Linked DNA regions of Homo sapiens: region 1 is linked to region 2. The links come from fine-mapping of genetic effects on plasma protein levels. A gene starts in region 2. The other region holds a variant in brackets. All regions are shown on one strand. Distances are between the middles of the regions.

The links. PIP is the chance, under the fine-mapping model, that this variant and not a neighbour inherited with it causes the effect. The UK Biobank Pharma Proteomics Project read protein levels with antibody pairs (Olink). The fine-mapping took linkage between variants from a reference panel, not from the people measured, so its PIPs are less certain.
Region 1: its variant is fine-mapped to the plasma level of the PTPRR protein (UK Biobank, PIP above 0.99). The variant lies in the coding sequence of PTPRR. If it changes the protein, the assay may bind it differently, which can mimic a change of level.

Annotation. Positions count from the first base shown.
Region 1 is chr12:70,760,207-70,768,545 of GRCh38, reverse strand. It overlaps PTPRR (protein tyrosine phosphatase receptor type R), which reads left to right. Exons shown (of 14, transcript NM_002849.4): 3 at 3,768-3,881; 4 at 6,920-7,075. The region is part of intron 1 of LOC124902960 (a long non-coding RNA gene); the gene reads right to left. Among named protein-coding and RNA genes, the nearest start is that of PTPRB, 130 kb to the right of the region's middle. The variant C/T (reference allele first, on the strand shown) is at 3,873.
Region 2 is chr12:70,917,056-70,925,394 of GRCh38, reverse strand. It overlaps PTPRR (protein tyrosine phosphatase receptor type R), which reads left to right and starts at 4,657. Exons shown (of 14, transcript NM_002849.4): 1 at 4,657-5,062. The coding sequence starts at 5,005.

The DNA.
Region 1 (8,339 bases), 160 kb after region 2:
TCCTGGACTCTTTTTGGTTGGTAAGTTATTGATTATTGCCACAATTTCAGATCCTATTTTTGGTCTATTCAGAGATTCAACTTCTTCCTGGTTTAGTCTTGGGAAAGTGCATGTGTCAAGGAATTTATCCATTTCTTCTAGATTTTCTAGTTTATTTGCGTAGAGGTGTTTGTAGTATTCTCTGATGGTAGTTTGTATTTCTGTGGGATCGATGGTGATATCCCCTTTATCATTTTTTATTGCGTCTATTTGATTCTTCTCTTGCTTTATTAGTCTTGCTAGCAGTCTATCAATTTTGTTGATCCTTTCAAAAAACCAGCTCCTGGATTCATTAATTTTTTGAAGGGTTTTTTGTGTCTCTATTTCCTTCAGTTCTGCTCTGATTTTAGTTATTTCTTGCCTTCTGCTAGCTTTTGAATGTGTTTGCTGTTGCTTTTCTAGTTCTTTTAATTGTGATGTTAGGGTGTCAGTTTTGGATCTTTCCTGCTTTCTCTTGTGGGCATTTAGTGCTATAAATTTCCCTCTACACACTGCTTTGAATGTGTCCCAGAGATTCTGGTATGTTGTGTCTTTGTTCTCATTGGTTTCAAAGAACATCTTTATTTCTGCCTTCATTTCGTTATGTACCCAGTAGTCATTCAGGAGCAGGTTGTTCATTTTCCATGTAGTTGAGTGGTTTTGAGTGAGTTTCTTAATCCTGAGTTCTACTTTGATTGCACTGTGGTCTGAGAGACAATTGTTACAATTTCTGTTCTTTTACATTTGCTGAGGAGAGCTTTACTTCCAAGTATGTGGTCAATTTTGGAACAGGTGTGGTGTGGTGCTGAAAAAAATGTATATTCTGTTGATTTGGGATGGAGAATTCTGTAGATGTCTATTAGGTCTGCTTGGTGCAGAGCTGAATTCAATTCCTGGGTATCCTTGTTAACTTTCTATCTCGTTGATCTGTCTAATGTTGACAGTGGGGTGTTAACGTCTCCCATTATTATTGTGTAGGAGTCTAAGTCTCTTTGTAGGTCACTCAGGACTGGCTTTATGAATCTGGGTGCTCCTGTATTGGGTGCATATATATTTAGGATAGTTAGCTCTTCTTGTTGAATTGATCCCTTTACCATTATGTAATGGCCGCCTTTGTCTCTTTTGATCTTTGTTGGTTTAAAGTCTGTTTTATCAGAGACTAGGATTGCAACCCCTGTAATTTTTTGTTTTCCATTTTCTTGGTAGATCTTCCTCCATCCCTTTATTTTGAGCCTATGTGTGTCTCTGCACATGAGATGGGTTTCCTGAATACAGCACACTGATGGGTCTTGACTCTTTATCCAATTTGCCAGTCTGTGTCTTTTAACTGGAGCATTTAGTCCATTTACATTTAAAGTTAATATTGTTATGTGTGAATTTGATCCTGTCATTATGATGTTAGCTGATTATTTTGCTCATTAGTTGATGTAGTTTCTTCCTAGTCTCGATGGTCTTTACATTTTGGCGTGATTTTGCAGTGGCTGGTACCGGTTGTTCCTTTCCATGTTTAGCGCTTCCTTCAGAAGTTCTTTTAGGGCAGGCCTGGTGGTGACAAAATCTCTCAGCATTTGCTTGTCTGTAAAGTATTTTATTTCTCCTTCACTTATGAAGCTTAGCTTGGCTGGATATAAAATTCCGGGTTGAAAATTCTTTTCTTTAAGAATGTTGAATATTGGCCCCCACTCTCTTCTGGCTTGTAGAGTTTCTGTTGAGAGATCCGCTGTTAGTCTGATGGGCTTCCCGTTGTGGGTAACCCGACCTTTCTCTCTGGCTGCCCTTAACATTTTTTCCTTCTTTTCAACTTTGGTGAATCTGACAATTATGTGTCTTGGAGTTGCTCTTCTCGAGGAGTATCTTTGTGGCATTCTCTGTATTTCCTGAATCTGAATGCTGGCCTGCCTTGCTAGATTGGGGAAGTTCTCCTGGATAATATCCTGCAGAGTGTTTTCCAACTTGGTTCCATTCTCCCCGTCACGTTCAAGTACACCAATCAGACGTAGATTTGGTCTTTTCACATAGTCCCATATTTCTTGGAGGCTTTGTTCACTTCTTTTTATTCTTTTTTCTCTAAACTTCCCTTCTCGCTTAATTTCATTCATTTCATCTTCCATCACTGATACCCTTTCTTCCAGTTGATTGCATCAGCTCCTGAGGCTTCTGCATTCTTCACGTAGTTCTCAAGCCTTGGCTTTCAGCTCCATCAGCTCCTTTAAGCACTTCTCTGTATTGGTTATTCTAGTTATACATTTGTCTAAATTTTTTTCAAAGTTTTCAACTTCTTTGCCTTTGGTTTGAATTTCCTCCTGTAGCTCGGAGTAGTTTCATTGTCTGAAGCCTTCTTCTCTCAACTCGTCAAAGTCATTCTCTGTCCAGCTTTGTTCCGTTGCTGGTGAGGAGCTGTGTTCCTTTGGAGGAGGAGAGGCGCTCTGCTTTTTAGAGTTTCCAGTTTTTCTGCTCTGTTTTTTCCCCATCTTTGTGGTTTTATCTACTTTTGGTCTTTGATGATGGTGATGTGCACATGGGTTTTTGGTGTGGATGTCCTTTCTGTTTGTTAGTTTTCCTTCTAACAGACAGGACCCTCAGCTGCAGGTCTGTTGGAGTTTTCTAGAGGTCTACTCCAGACCCTGTTTTCTTGGGTAATAGCAGCGGTGGCTGCAGAACACCAGATGTTTGTGAACTGCGAATGCTGCTGTCTGATCGTTCCTCTTGAAGTTTTGTCTCAGAGGAGTACCCGGCTGTGTGAGGTGTCAGTCTGCCCCTTCTGGGGGGGTGCCTCCCAGTTAGCCTGCTCAGGGGTCAGGGGTCAGGGACCCACTTGAGGAGGCAGTCTACCCGTTCTCAGATCTCCAGCTGCATGCTGGGAGAACCACTGCTCTCTTCAAAGCTCTCAGACAGGGACATTTAAGTCTGCAGAGGTTACTGCTGTCTTTTTGTTTGTCTGTGCCCTGCCCCCAGAGGTGGAGCCTACAGAGGCAGGCAGGCCTCCTTGAGCTGTGGTGGGCTCCACCCAGTTGGAGCTTCCCGGCTGCTTTGTTTACCTAAGTGAGCCTGGGCAATGGCGGGCACCCCTCCCCCAGCCTCACTGCTGCCTTGCAGTTTGATCTCAGACTGCTGTGCTAGCAATCAGCAAGACTCCATGGGCATAGGACCCTCCAAGCCAGGTGAGGGATATAATCTCCTGGTGTGCCATTTTTTAAGCCCGTCGGAAAAGCGCAGTATTGGGGTGGGAGTGACCCGATTTTCCAGGTGCCGTCTGTCACCCCTTTCTTTGAATAGGAAAGGGAACTCCCTGAGCCCTTGCACTTCCCGAGTGAGGCAATGCCTCACCCTGCTTCGGCTCGTGCACGGTGCACTGCACCCACTGTCCTGCGCCCACTGTCTGGCACTCCCTAGTGAGATGAACCTGGTACCTCAGATGGAAATGCAGAAATCACCCATCTTCTGCATCACTCACACTGGGAGCTGTAGACTGGAGCTGTTCCTATTTGGCCATCTTGGCTCCACCCCTATAATACATCTTTTTAACTAATACCATTTAAAATTTCACATGCAATGTTCCTATAATTTTATTTCTATCAAAAATGCAATAAAGCATTATTAGTGTAAACTTAGCAGAGTCACAGAAACTGTGGTCAGTCATGAGTCAAGAACTGAATGTCGTGAACTTATTAATACTTATTTGGATGTATTCTATACATCTATACAAATTAATACTATAATTTGGATTTATTTTTGTCCTTATTTTCTAGACACTGCAAATGGATGTAAACAAGCTGAACATAACCTTGCTTCGGATCTTCCGCCAAGGAGTGGCTGCAGCTTTAGGACTCTTACCCCAGCAAGTGCACATCAAT[C/T]GCCTCATTGTAAGATACCCACATTTCGCATTTCCAAAATTCAAGCCGTGTGTGTGGTTTTTTTAATCACTAAAGGGCTCATGCTATAGTTGTATGGCTAATGAGCCAAATCCGGCACGTCATGTTTTTGCAAATAAAATTTTATGAAACAAGCTATATCTGCTCATCTACCCATTGCCCATGATGCCTTTTGTATTACAGTGGCAGAGTTCAGTAGTTGCAAAAGATTGGCTCATGAAGCCTAAACTGTTTATCATCTGGCCCTTTATAGAGGAAGTTTGTTAACTCTGTCATAGTTCAAGTCTAGGTCCTGTGGTAAATATGAAAGAGCCCAAAACACTTGCCTTACCAACCTGACACTACTCCGAAAATATTCTCCATTAGAGTGAAAGCTTCTATATCAGGTAAGGCAGTTTCCAGACATTATTGATATACTTTCAAGTATATCAGGTGAGGCAGTTTCCAGACATTATTGATATACTTTCAAGTATATCAGTAGAACAATGGACATTGAGTGCACAAGGCAGGGCATTTTAAATAAAGAATAAAGAACTGACCCTGAGGACTGCAGCCCAGGTGGAATGCAGGAATTGGTAGTCCAGGAAAACCAAGAGAAAACTTGAATGGGCATCTGAGTGGGTAAAGTAAAAAAAAAAAAAAAAAAAGTAAACCCAAAGGATCTGTTGTATAGGGCCCAGTCTAGGCCTATATGTCAATCACCCACATCCATTATTTCCTCTCTTTCCTCGGTGTTTGGGAACCTGGATTTCATGCAACTACATGTTCCCATCTGCACTGGAAAGTGGGCGTGAGCAAAGGCCAAAAAAAAAGTAAATTCAGATCAGATGACTGTCTTTCTGTAAAAAGCTAGTCACCTCAGTTTTATGTGAAAAGGAACTTTGGGATCACTGTACAGGTTTTAAATTGCTCTTAATGTCCACTGCAATGGGAGTCTAAGCAAGGACTCCATGTTCCCCCAGCCTTAAATTGCTGTGCTTCTGCTGCATGGAGCTCAGCTTTCTATTGCACCCATCTGCATTCACTATGGAGGGAATTTGCTTTTTGTTTTGGTTTGGGGTTTATGTTTCTTTTTATTTTTTCTGTGTGTAGAGAGTGAGTTGTTTCATTTCTTCATAAAAATTTGTATTCTGTGAATCAACAATGTTCTAGAAGTAAACAAGCTGTTAAAAAGTTTTAACTCATACCACAGAAGAAGAAATACAACATTCCCCTGAATGAGTGAAGGTTACCCGGTGGCTCACGCCTGTAATCCCAGAACTTTGGGAGGCCAGGAGGGTGGATAACTGGAGGTCAGGAGTTTGAGACCAGCCTGGCCAACATGGTAAAACCCCATCTCTACTACTTAAAATACAAAAAATTGGCCGGGCATGGTGGCAGGCATCTGTAATCCCAGCTACTCAGGAGGCTGAGGCAGGAGAATCACTTGAACCCAGGAGGTGGAAGTTGCAGTGAGCAGAGATCACTCCATGGCACTCCAGCCTGGACAACAAGAGCGAAACTCCATCTCAAAAAAAAAGAAAAAAAGTCTTGGATCTAGATCTAGATTTTTTATATATATACAATATATACATATAAAAATATATATGCATCAACCTGTGCATATATATTTTGCTAAGATATATAGAGAGATGATATAGATATCTTAGATATACTTTTATACATATTAGGTTTAATGAGCATAATAGCTGTTTGCAAGGGTGAAGGAGGGATTTGCCAGACTGAGGAAGGAATATGCTTATCATATCCTCAGAGAATGTTAGTAGCATGGTTCAAAGTAGTTATTATAATAGCTAGAGTTACAATACCTGACATAGCAAAGCATGTTGATTAGCATCATGTGTTTTGGAGACAGACAAAACCATACTTCATTTCCAGTGTGGCCATATTCCATGTATGTGAATGTGGGCAAGCCTCTTACGTTTTATTTGTAAAATAGAGATAACCATAATACCTATCGCTTAGCGGTGTTTTGAGCAATAAATGAGATAAAAGATTTAAGGTAAATAGCATGTTAGGCACAACACAAGTGCTCTGTACCTACAGTAGTTGTTATTGGGTCACAAACTATTTAAATTGTTATAAACATGTTTCACATCAGTATTTAGTTATTGTCTGTTGTTCTCTGCAAACATGAAAAAACTTTTACTGGCTTGCTAGTAGTAAACTGATACTTCATTTTATACCAGCTAAAATTCTGATAAAGCACATTAAAAGAAAACTTTCTAGCATGAGAGCTCTCCATGTGTCAGAAAGAAAGCTAAGAATAATTTCCTTCTATTAGTGTGTTGTGTAAGTTGTGAAAGATAATATTATCAATCGCCATGGTTTTGTCTGCTCTCTGTGTGTGTGTGTGTGTGTATGTGTGTGTAGGATATCAGACATTTATGGTAAGAAATTCTCTGACTCCATTTCAGCTAATGAGGTAATACTAATAGGAAAAGTCTCATGACATCACTACATAAGATATGCATTTCCACCAAATGACCAATTTTAAATGTGTGACATATTTGACGTGAAGAACAGTATCAGGAAAAGGACTTCAAAGATCATCTGGCACCATCTTCTTTAGCTAGCCAAGCCTTCACATTAACACAAGTTATAAAAATAATAGAGAGAGTGGTGATGTCTAATATGTAATTTTGTAATTTTACTATTACTTTGGACTTTAATTCATTTGATTTTAAAATGCTTCTTTAAACATAATTACTCAGGGAACATCTGAACAATCTACATCAAAAAATTACAATATGGAATGGTAAATGAATCAGCATGCAAGCATGCACTGAAATATAAAATTACAAATCTTGGGGGGTGGCAACTAATGGCAAGAAAGCTATTTGAAGATTTTAGACTTTGGACTGGTAACATTAAGTCTATCAGAGAATAACTAATAAATATAATCTCCACAAAGCCTTTTAGGATTCTAGAATTCTGACTTCCTTTAATGTTTCTAAAGGACAGGTAAAAATATTATCCAAAGTTGTTTAAAATGTCTATAACAAATACAAATATTCTGCTTTTATTAGGGAAAGAAGAACAGTATTGAACTGTTTGTGTCTCCCATAAACCGAAAAACAGGAATTTCTGATGCTCTGCCCTCTGAGGAAGTTCTTCGTTCACTTAATATCAATGTTTTGCATCAAAGTTTATCCCAGTTTGGAATTACAGAAGTCTCTCCTGAGGTATGTTGTTGCACGAAACAATTCATTTAAAAATGTGAACAGTTAGCATGCTATGGTAATTCAACCCCAAGAGGCTTTGAGATGGAAGTTGTTTATTGTATGTTATTTGATAATAAAAATTTCCCTGAGTGTCAGAATTCTCTGATCTTTACATTGTATATGTTTACTTCTTAAGGAAATGCACTTTCACATTAAGGTTTTCACTTTTTGGCATTTTTCTTCTTCAAACCTTTGTGGCCTTATAACTTATTTTGACTTATCCAGTAAATTTTCTAGAAGAAAGAAGATTTAGATGTATTTTGTCAATTGATCGCTTGAAACTGATATGTCAAATAAACAAAAATACATTTAAACCTTTCTTTCTCTACAGGTGCACCCCTCCCCTCATTGTCGTCATTGTCAAAATGGTCACCAGATATTCGCCTTTTCCCATAACTTTGAAATTAATTTGAAATGTGATTTTTCTTTTTCTGAAGAAACTATAGTTTTTTAAAGAACTTAAGTCTTAAGAACTATAGATGTTTCTTCATAGTATTTTCCAAATTTGTCGCTTTTAAAAAATTTCCTCTACCACCTCCACCATCTCACTCCTGAATGGATTTAATTTCCTTTCCAATTCTATTACTCCATCCCGCTCTAACAAACCTACTGAAAGGATCATCATCCTAAATACGTGTAATTCAATTCATGGAATCATGAAATTAAACTGGAGGGAATATGTGTAACACCTTGTAGATACAGAAAGTATGGCCCATAGAAATTAAGTGACTCCCTCAAGGTGACAGAACAAGAGAGGCGTAAAGCACCACCTAAGATCTAGGTGTCTTTTTTTTCTCTCTTATAGAGGCAGGGTTTTACTATGTTGCCCAGGCTGGTCTTGAATGCCTGGCCTCAAGCAATTCTCCCACCTTGGCCTCCAAAAGTGCTGGGATTACAGATGTGAGTGAGCCATCTTCCCTGTCCAAAATCTAGATGTCCTGATCCCTGGTCTATTCACCTTTACAGTAAATCACACTGCCTCTCATTTTAGTATCACAGGTGTGGTATAAAAAGCTCTGGGTGGGCATGGTGGCTTATGTTTGTAATCCTAACTACTGGGGAGGCTGAGGCAGCAGGATCACTTGCACCCAGATGGAGTTTGTATCCCAAAGCCACACGTAAAATGTGTGTGACCATGGGCAGGCCATTTAATCTCTGTGAGGTTGTCTGCCTTTGCATGGTATCAACCTCCCTGAGCCTTAGTTTCTTCAAATCCAAAATGGGT
Region 2 (8,339 bases):
TGTGTGTGTATCAAATGCTTTAATTTAACAAAACTACAACTGTGTTAAGTTATAAAATGTAATTGTTGTTATCCATCTTGAAGTCTGTGTCTTGGGATAAGAACACTGTTTTCAATTTAAGTATTAAAATAAGTTCGGTCATTAAGCAGGGATGTTGTACAATACAGCTGATAACAGCATAGTGCTAGGGGTCACCATACCTGAGTTCTAATCCCAGCTTCACCACTTACCAACTGGATGGCTATAGGCAAATTACTAGCTTCGCTGAGCTTCAGTTTTCTCCTCTACTACAAAAAAAAAAAAAAAATAATACTTCACACAGCTCTTGTGAGACTTCAATGTGATAATATATATTTTTAGAATTTTAGTGCTTTTCCTCCCCTATTCTTATTGCCCCTTGCAATTTCATTGTTCTCTTCACTGTATGCTTATGAGAAAGGGTAGATCATTCTTCTTGTTATGGTTGGGAAAATACTAAAAAATAATAATGGTGAATTTATATACCTGAACATGGTATTTTCATCTGTGAATTTTGAATTCATTCCTTTTCATCCTGAGCTATATTCCACTCTGAATATAGCTTAATTCACATCAATTATTTACTTTGTAAAAAGAAATTATTTTTCTTCTTTTCTCCTCTTATAAAAGATAGCTCTCAGACAAAAGGAAACAGACTTTGGGATTGATAAAGTGGCTGCATAAAGGATGGGAAAGGGCAAGCACAGAACAAATCTTAGTGAGGTGTTTATAACTGTTACCTATTGCTCCCTTACATGTTCAGAAGTTCCTTGAATCCATTTTGCTGCTTTATATCTCTGCCACTGGCTCACACAATTCCCTGGCCTTTCTCTTCATGTAGAGCAGTTAGAACCTACTTATCCAGCCAGACTCAGTTCGTTTCCTGTTGCCCACCAGTTTCTTGCCTGCTGCCCATCCCCTCCTCTGCTCCCACCCTCCATAGAAGAAATCATTTCCTCCATTCTTCTCCATTCTATCTTAAGCATCTTTCTAACACAGTTCCTCTAAGCATGATTTTACTTGCTGTCTTTGTTCACTAGATGCTAGGGCCCAGAGTCCACTGCCACAAGCAGTGTCTCTTGTTCTCCTGGAGACAGTCTTCTATGAGTGTTCCTCAACACAGAGCTTTACTGTGGGGCCAGGCATCTCATGCCCAGCCCTGATCTAATCATCTAATTCTAGTGAGCAACCTACAACTGAGTGTGTGTGTGTCTGTGTGTGTGTGTGTGTGTGTGTGTTATTAGAGGTAGTATAATATAGTGGTTTGGTATCAAATTATCAGATGTACATCTTAATTCTATCAATTTACTTTTTAACTGATTACTTACTACTTGATTTTGGGCAAGTTACTTCTCCATGCCTCAACTATATTATCTCTAAAATGAGATCATTATAGTATCCTTTTGTAGAAATATTATAATGTTTAAATAGGACATCCAAATGCTTAGAATAGAACCTGGCACACAGGAAGCACAGTCAATGTTAGCCATAATTATACTTAAATAATAGTAATCTAAATAACTTAAGTAGGAGATCCTTATAATCAATGGATCTGATTTCTCAATTTAAAGTGTCTTAAGGAAAGATGGCTGACATGAATAATTTTCATCCATTTATAGAGAAGTAAATATGGATGCTCATAATGATTAAATCTGTTTTGAAGGCAGGCTCTGAAAAGCTTCTTTCTTGCATAAATTTTCTCTAAGACTCACCTCATAAGAAAAAGAAATTATGCATCTTATGTGGAGGAAAATTCCATATGATATTTTTTATTTATCTTGTAAAATGTAAATGATTCTTTTATGACATAGCTCTGTAGGCCACTACTAATTTGTATAGTTCTCTCATAGTAATTTCCATGCTTCTTTGAATTACAGCTAACTTTTTAAAACCCTGATGCAGTGTTTTAACCAAGCTTTTTTTCCAAAACACCAAGTCACCTTCACTAGCATTAGATCACAGTTAAGGAAAAACAGCACCTATCGACTCAGAATATTTCTGTATGAGTTAAGTGGTTGACTTTTTCACTAATTGGCTAATTCATTCATTGCTGTTTGACTTCACGAACAGCAATGAGTGAATTAGCCAATTAGTGAAAAAGTGAATTGAAGCCGTTACAAGTATGATATTAGATTGACTCACATAGGAATATGACCTTTTTCGTTACTTTATCATTTCTAAGTAAATTAATAATGAATGTCTAGTCACCAAAATTACAGCCCACTCAGGGTTATTTTTACCATGCTGAACTAACTATTCTAATGATATATCCAGCCAAATTGGAAATTGGAAATTTTTGCTGCTAACGGAATTTTCATGCATAGTTTAACAATTCAGCTACCTGCAGCCCTGAACAAAATACATTGCCAGCAGGATGCTTTTTGGCAAAGTCATAGTCAATTATAATAATGGGAATTTTAAATGCCCCACCAATAAATGTTGGAATTATCTGTGGAAAAGGAAGGGGTTCAGAACATTACTGCAGCATTGTTTCATTACCATAAGTAAGTATATTTTATTCTTGGAGATCTATGTAAGTTTGATAATTAGTTATTTTAGGAAACAAGAAAATAAGAAAAATAGACCTATTGTAAGTGGGATACAATTATTTTTCCCTAACCTCCAGCCCTGCAGCATTTCTAGTAACAGATGTTAGATGAGAAGAGTTATTCTTCTAAGCTTTACAGAATGCTAAATAAATTATCTCAAAGGTTGACTCAGTAAGAATTTCAAAGAGTTAATTGTCAGTATTGAACTTTGTCAACTATCATTTTCATTTATTCATTTTTGAGTATCTATTTTGCATGAGGCATTGCTCTAGGGAGTTGGGACATATCAATAAAGTCATCAAAGTTCTTCAACATTGGAGCTCAAATTCTGTTTTGCGGGGGGGAGTAGGGAAATAGATACTAAACAATAGATTTTATAAGTAATTATTTTGGTTTGTTAGAAAGTGATACGGGAAAAGCAAACTGGAGGACAGTGAATCAGGAATAGGAGAAGAGGTTGCAGCTTAGAGTGGTTTGGGATGAAATGATAGTGCCACAGAAATGGAGTGTGCCACACGCATGGGGGAGTAGGGGGTGGAGCACGTTGCTAGAGAGGGGCTAGACATGGAGATATGTCTCTATTTTCAGCAGAGAAGGCCTGTCAAGATATTAAAAGTACATCTCATTGTCCCCTTCTCCCACTTGTTGGAGTGCTTCCTGGCCTTGTCTCTCAGAGCTGAAGATGACATAAATCATAAAAGAAATAAATGGTACCGCCTGGGCTCTCTGATCTTATAAGGTCCCACCTAATTTAAGCTCTGGTGGATAGCCTATTTCCCATTAGTTGTCTCAATTCACAGAGGATGGAGAAAGAAAGCACTGAATGAGATGTGCAGCTCAACTCAATGGGCACTTGTTAGCCCCAATTATTTGGCTAGGACAACTTTATTCAAGTTAATGGAATACAAAACTCAGCAGTTCTTATGGAGACTTCAATGTGCTGTAGAACAAACCACAGATAAATGAACTGTCTGAAAGAATAATATGAGGCACGGCTAAACAAGTGTTGTGGAAGAGAAAGATCACTGTAATCTAGAGTTAGTTAGAGTTAGGGCTTTCTGGAAAAGTGAGACCAACATTACACCTTCGAAAACTAGTGTGGTGGTGGTGCAAGTGGAGGAAAATGGGAAAGAGGCAACAGTGTCCATAAAGACACAGAGGCAGAAAGGGCAGAGGCCCTGGGATAGTTAAAAGAGAAGTCTAGCTGAGGGACTTCTTGACTTGACTAGCAGCAATTAGCCATGACTAATAAGGCTTTCCACACTCCAAAGACTTAGATGGAGGGATAAAAAACCATCTAATGGCAGACTGTGGTAGCCTCCCTAGAGACACAGAGCTGGGCCGGATGAGTCCAGGCACTGACGTGATCCATTATCTTTCACCTTAAAGAGTAAAAGGGAAACTAAAGTTAATTACCTCCACGAAACAAAAAGGTGCCTTCTTGTGCTTCAATTACATGGATATATTCTACTAGTCTAAAAGTATCTTCTCACTTCTTTCTGTCACTGTGAGGACTTGAGTCAGAAGAAAGTTTAAATACAGTCATTGAGCTGGAAAGAGTGGAAAGAGAAGCAAAGAGGGGGAAGCTGTAGGAAGGACGAAGTCACCCCCAAGATACATGGTTACTGCTTACACCAAGCAAGCTGCCTTGGGAACGCTTCCCCCGAGCAGCCAGAATGCTCAGCAGTGGAAGACACCTCTATTCCTGTAGGCGAGTCCTGGGAAGCTGGTCAATCTGCAAATGCCAATTCCCAGCAGTGAGCTCGGTCCACGTGTAAATCAAGATTTGGGGAAAGAGTAGGGTGGGTGGCATGGTTGACAATGTCATCAGCTCCCTCCTCTGACTCCTGTGGTCGTGCCCCCATCTACTCTCACTCAGCTACACCCCACCTTCGGATTTGTGATGGACGCTGGGTCCCTAGTAACCACAGCAAGTGTCTCCCCCGCACTTCCCCCTTCCCCACCCCCACCCCCACCCCCAACCACCACCCCAGCGATGGAGCCTACTCTGCTCCAAGCCGCCGCTAAGACCCGGAGAAGCGGAATTTCACTTTGAAATTCCCTTGCCTCGTGAGGGCCGGCGCTGGGCATGCTCAGTAGCCGCGGCGCTGCTGCTGGGCTGCTGGGCTGGCGCGGAGTCCACCCTGCCGTCTCCGCCTTGGCTTCTGGGCGTCCAGAAGGCCAGGCATTTGCCGCCTCTGAGCGCTTCTGTTCCCCTTACCCGCAACCTCCTACTGCTCTTCCTCTCTCCCTCTCTTAGGGAGGTTGAAGCTGGTGCTGGTTTCTGTCGGCGCCACAGACTGACTGCTCTGCAAACCCCAGCCGAGGACCTGAATCCCGGAGACTAGAAGACCCTTGGCGGTGGCTCTTTCTAATAGCACTTTACCTGAAGTGGGGTCGTGGTGGAGTTTCTCCTCCACCTCTCAATGCAAACACTATGCGGAGAGCAGTCTGCTTCCCTGCGCTGTGCCTGCTCCTTAATCTTCACGCTGCAGGTAAGGGGTTGCCAGGCTTAGAGCCGGAGCTGTGCATGAGATGGGAAACTGCACATGCTTAAGGACTCTAGGAAAAGCTTGCCTTGCGAAGAAAGCCTTTCTAAAAAGGTAAAACAGGACAGTACCTGACAGGGAAGGGGTGAGGGAGTCGTGCACCTGTTGGAAAACTGAGGCCGAAAACTTAACCTAAAATTAGCTCTTGATTTTTCTTTACTTTATACGAAAATAGTGAACATTTTCAATATGAATACAGGTTTGCTCCCCCCTTCGCCTCCCCTCCGTCTAGATTCCCTGCTCTTGTTTCTAGGCTATGCACTTAACTGTCAATTTTTCAGGAGAGGGATAAGACATCCTGCTAGATGTAACCTTTTCTACTGCAGCGGCTACTACATTCATAAGGTCTCTTGGTCTAGCGAGCGCTCATAGGAAGGCATTGGCTGTAACCTGATGGACCACATCTCCGCCCAAAAGATCGAAATACATGGTTCACATTAGTGATGCTGCACCAGGCTCCTTTGGCCCCTGCTCTTGTCACTCGAATTTTCTAAGCCAATAAGAGGAAGAAAAGGTTTCAAATAGAATCCTCTTGTCTCTTTCAGCACCGTGGCTAGCGTCCGCTGGCATATTAAAAAAAAAAAAAAAAAAAAAAAAAAAAAAAACAATTACAGTTCCAAAGCTGACAACCCTGGGTTAGGCACTGTCCCTCGGACAGATTTGATAAGGTGTAACCAAGAGTAACAGTGAGACTGCTCCCAAATATAAATAGATTTGAGGCACCAGAATCAATATCAAGTCTCGTGAGGAAGCAAACCTTGGGAAGTACCTGAGAGATATTATATGTGGTGTCCCTGCTTTTTGCATACATAGCACCTCTATTTAATGCAGACAGACTTGCTAGGCTGAATTCCTTATCATTGTCACACACACATGAACCAAAATAAAATATGGCAGGGAGATTTTAGAAACCCTACTGTGACAGCAGTTGTCCATGCAGTAGTCCTGTAACAACCAGAGACGAGGCATTTTCCCTGAGTGTGCTTCTCATCCAATCACACATATCCATTCATTCCTTCAAGCAACATTTGCTGAGTGTATACTATGTTCTAGGGGTAATGAGTAAAAATAATTGTTCTGAAATTACAATCCTTGCAGTATCTTTTTTAAAAGAGTGGGTGAATTTTATTCTCTGTGTACAATAGTAGGAGTGAAATATGGTACTTTCTTATTCCAGCTAACGCTATTATTTAAATGTATCATGAATCTTTTGAGCAAATAATGCATAGGATTATTAAAGCTATTATTAAATACACATGTTAATTGTTATAATTATGATGTTATATTGTGGAGTTTTCAATAGTTCTTTGGCACATTTTGAGAAGTAGAAAATAGCTATGACTTGATTATTAAATTATTTGCAAACAGCTGTAGTGAATTATTTCGTTACCACATACAATTCTTCAATGCTGAAATGTGGGATGAAAACATACACATTGGGTTGAGTTTTATTTATAGTATTGCTTAATAATAGACTGACACAAACATTCATTACAGAAAAATCTCAATTCTTACTAAGGTAGCAATGATTTAGCTGGTCTGCCAACAATATCAGTGTAGTCATTTTTTCAAAACTAACATATAAAAAAGTTTAAAGATCACATTTGATACATCTTGAGTAATTATATCTTAAAAGTTATAAATAAACTGAAGCATGTGAAAAACATGTCTTGATTTACTGTAGATGAATATTCGGGATGAGAAAAATGAGGACTTTTGCTCATCAGATGAGAAACCTAGAAGCCTGTAGCCCTAGATTTTACCTGGAGTTCTGCCAAAGGGTATATTACCAAAGCCAATCCAATCCATCTCTACTTCAACTTTTTAATTTGCAAAACAAAGATAAAAAGTAAGATTAATCAACCAATTTTAATTTAATAAGAAAATGCATTTAAGGACATTTTTATATTTCAATTGCAAGATACTATTCATTGTATTCATATTTAATATAGTAAAATACATTGGTGTTTTATCACAGCAGATTGTAAGTTTAATATTATAGTTCTCTTGCCAATTTCATTTTAAATGCATTTTAATTTTAAACAGCAATTTGTGGGTCACAAGCTGTCATCAGATTAAAATTTATCACAGTTATCTAATAACATTGTTAGGGCTTTTCATCAGAACTAAAACAAACACAGCTCCTTGGTCTAAGCTTCTATACATTTGGAGATTAAGAAAATAAGTGGATGGGATGACAAAGATCAAGAAATCAAGATATTAATCTCTACTTGTTGAAGGTGTGAGTTTGTTACTTTTATGGAAGACTTTTCTCTCAGAACAGAGGCTGACTTCATAAAGAAGGGAAATGAATTCTATACATTCAGGCCTCTTTAACTGTAAAGCTAATTGATCCATTTTGGTTACGCCCAGGGTATCAGCAACTGCTTTATGCTGGTGGAACTGATGACACCTTATAATGCTTTAGAGATGGGAGGAATGTGCTAACGGGATGTAAGTGTTCTTTTTAGCTATATTAGGAACTGTTGCCTTCAATATAACCATGCCTGTAATGATAAGTAGCAAACTGCTTGCAACTTGAGTGCCATCTCCCATTATTTTGCTTATGGTTGCCTAAGACACCATCGGGGGGAAAAAGAAGATTATGACTCGCATTCTGGCTAGGGAGAAGTACTGTGGTCTATAATAGCTGTGGGAGAAAAATGAGGAGTGGGTACCATGCTGTGTAAGTGGCATCTCTGGGTAAATTAACACTAAAGGATTACTAAGCATGGTTCTTGTTAGAGAAGCTGGACACTACTCTACCCATGGCAGCCGATTTTTATAGATCACCTAACAAGGAAGTTGTGGTTATTGTCCATCCAACTGCTTATTTTACAGGTGAGAAAATGAAGATCTAGAGTATTAAAGTGGTAGTTAATAGCATAGTCGGGATAAAAGCCCAGGTTTCCAGACCCGTGGTTGCATACTATATAAAATTATACACTGGTTCTACAATAGGTGAGGCCACCATTGATTAAGTTAGTGGTGCAAAATACTTTTTACCTAACTGTCCTTATTCTTTACTCTTTCGTGAACCAGTTTAATATATAAACTCCAGTTGAAAATACCACTTCAGGAATATTCAAGGAGGCAATTAAAAGCCACCACAATAATACGAATGGTAAAAAAATATTATGTGGAAGATCCACAGAGCTTATTTTCTTCAGCATTTCTCCTCTTCCTTTGTCCAAAGAAGCATATTCCATTTGAGGAGATATTA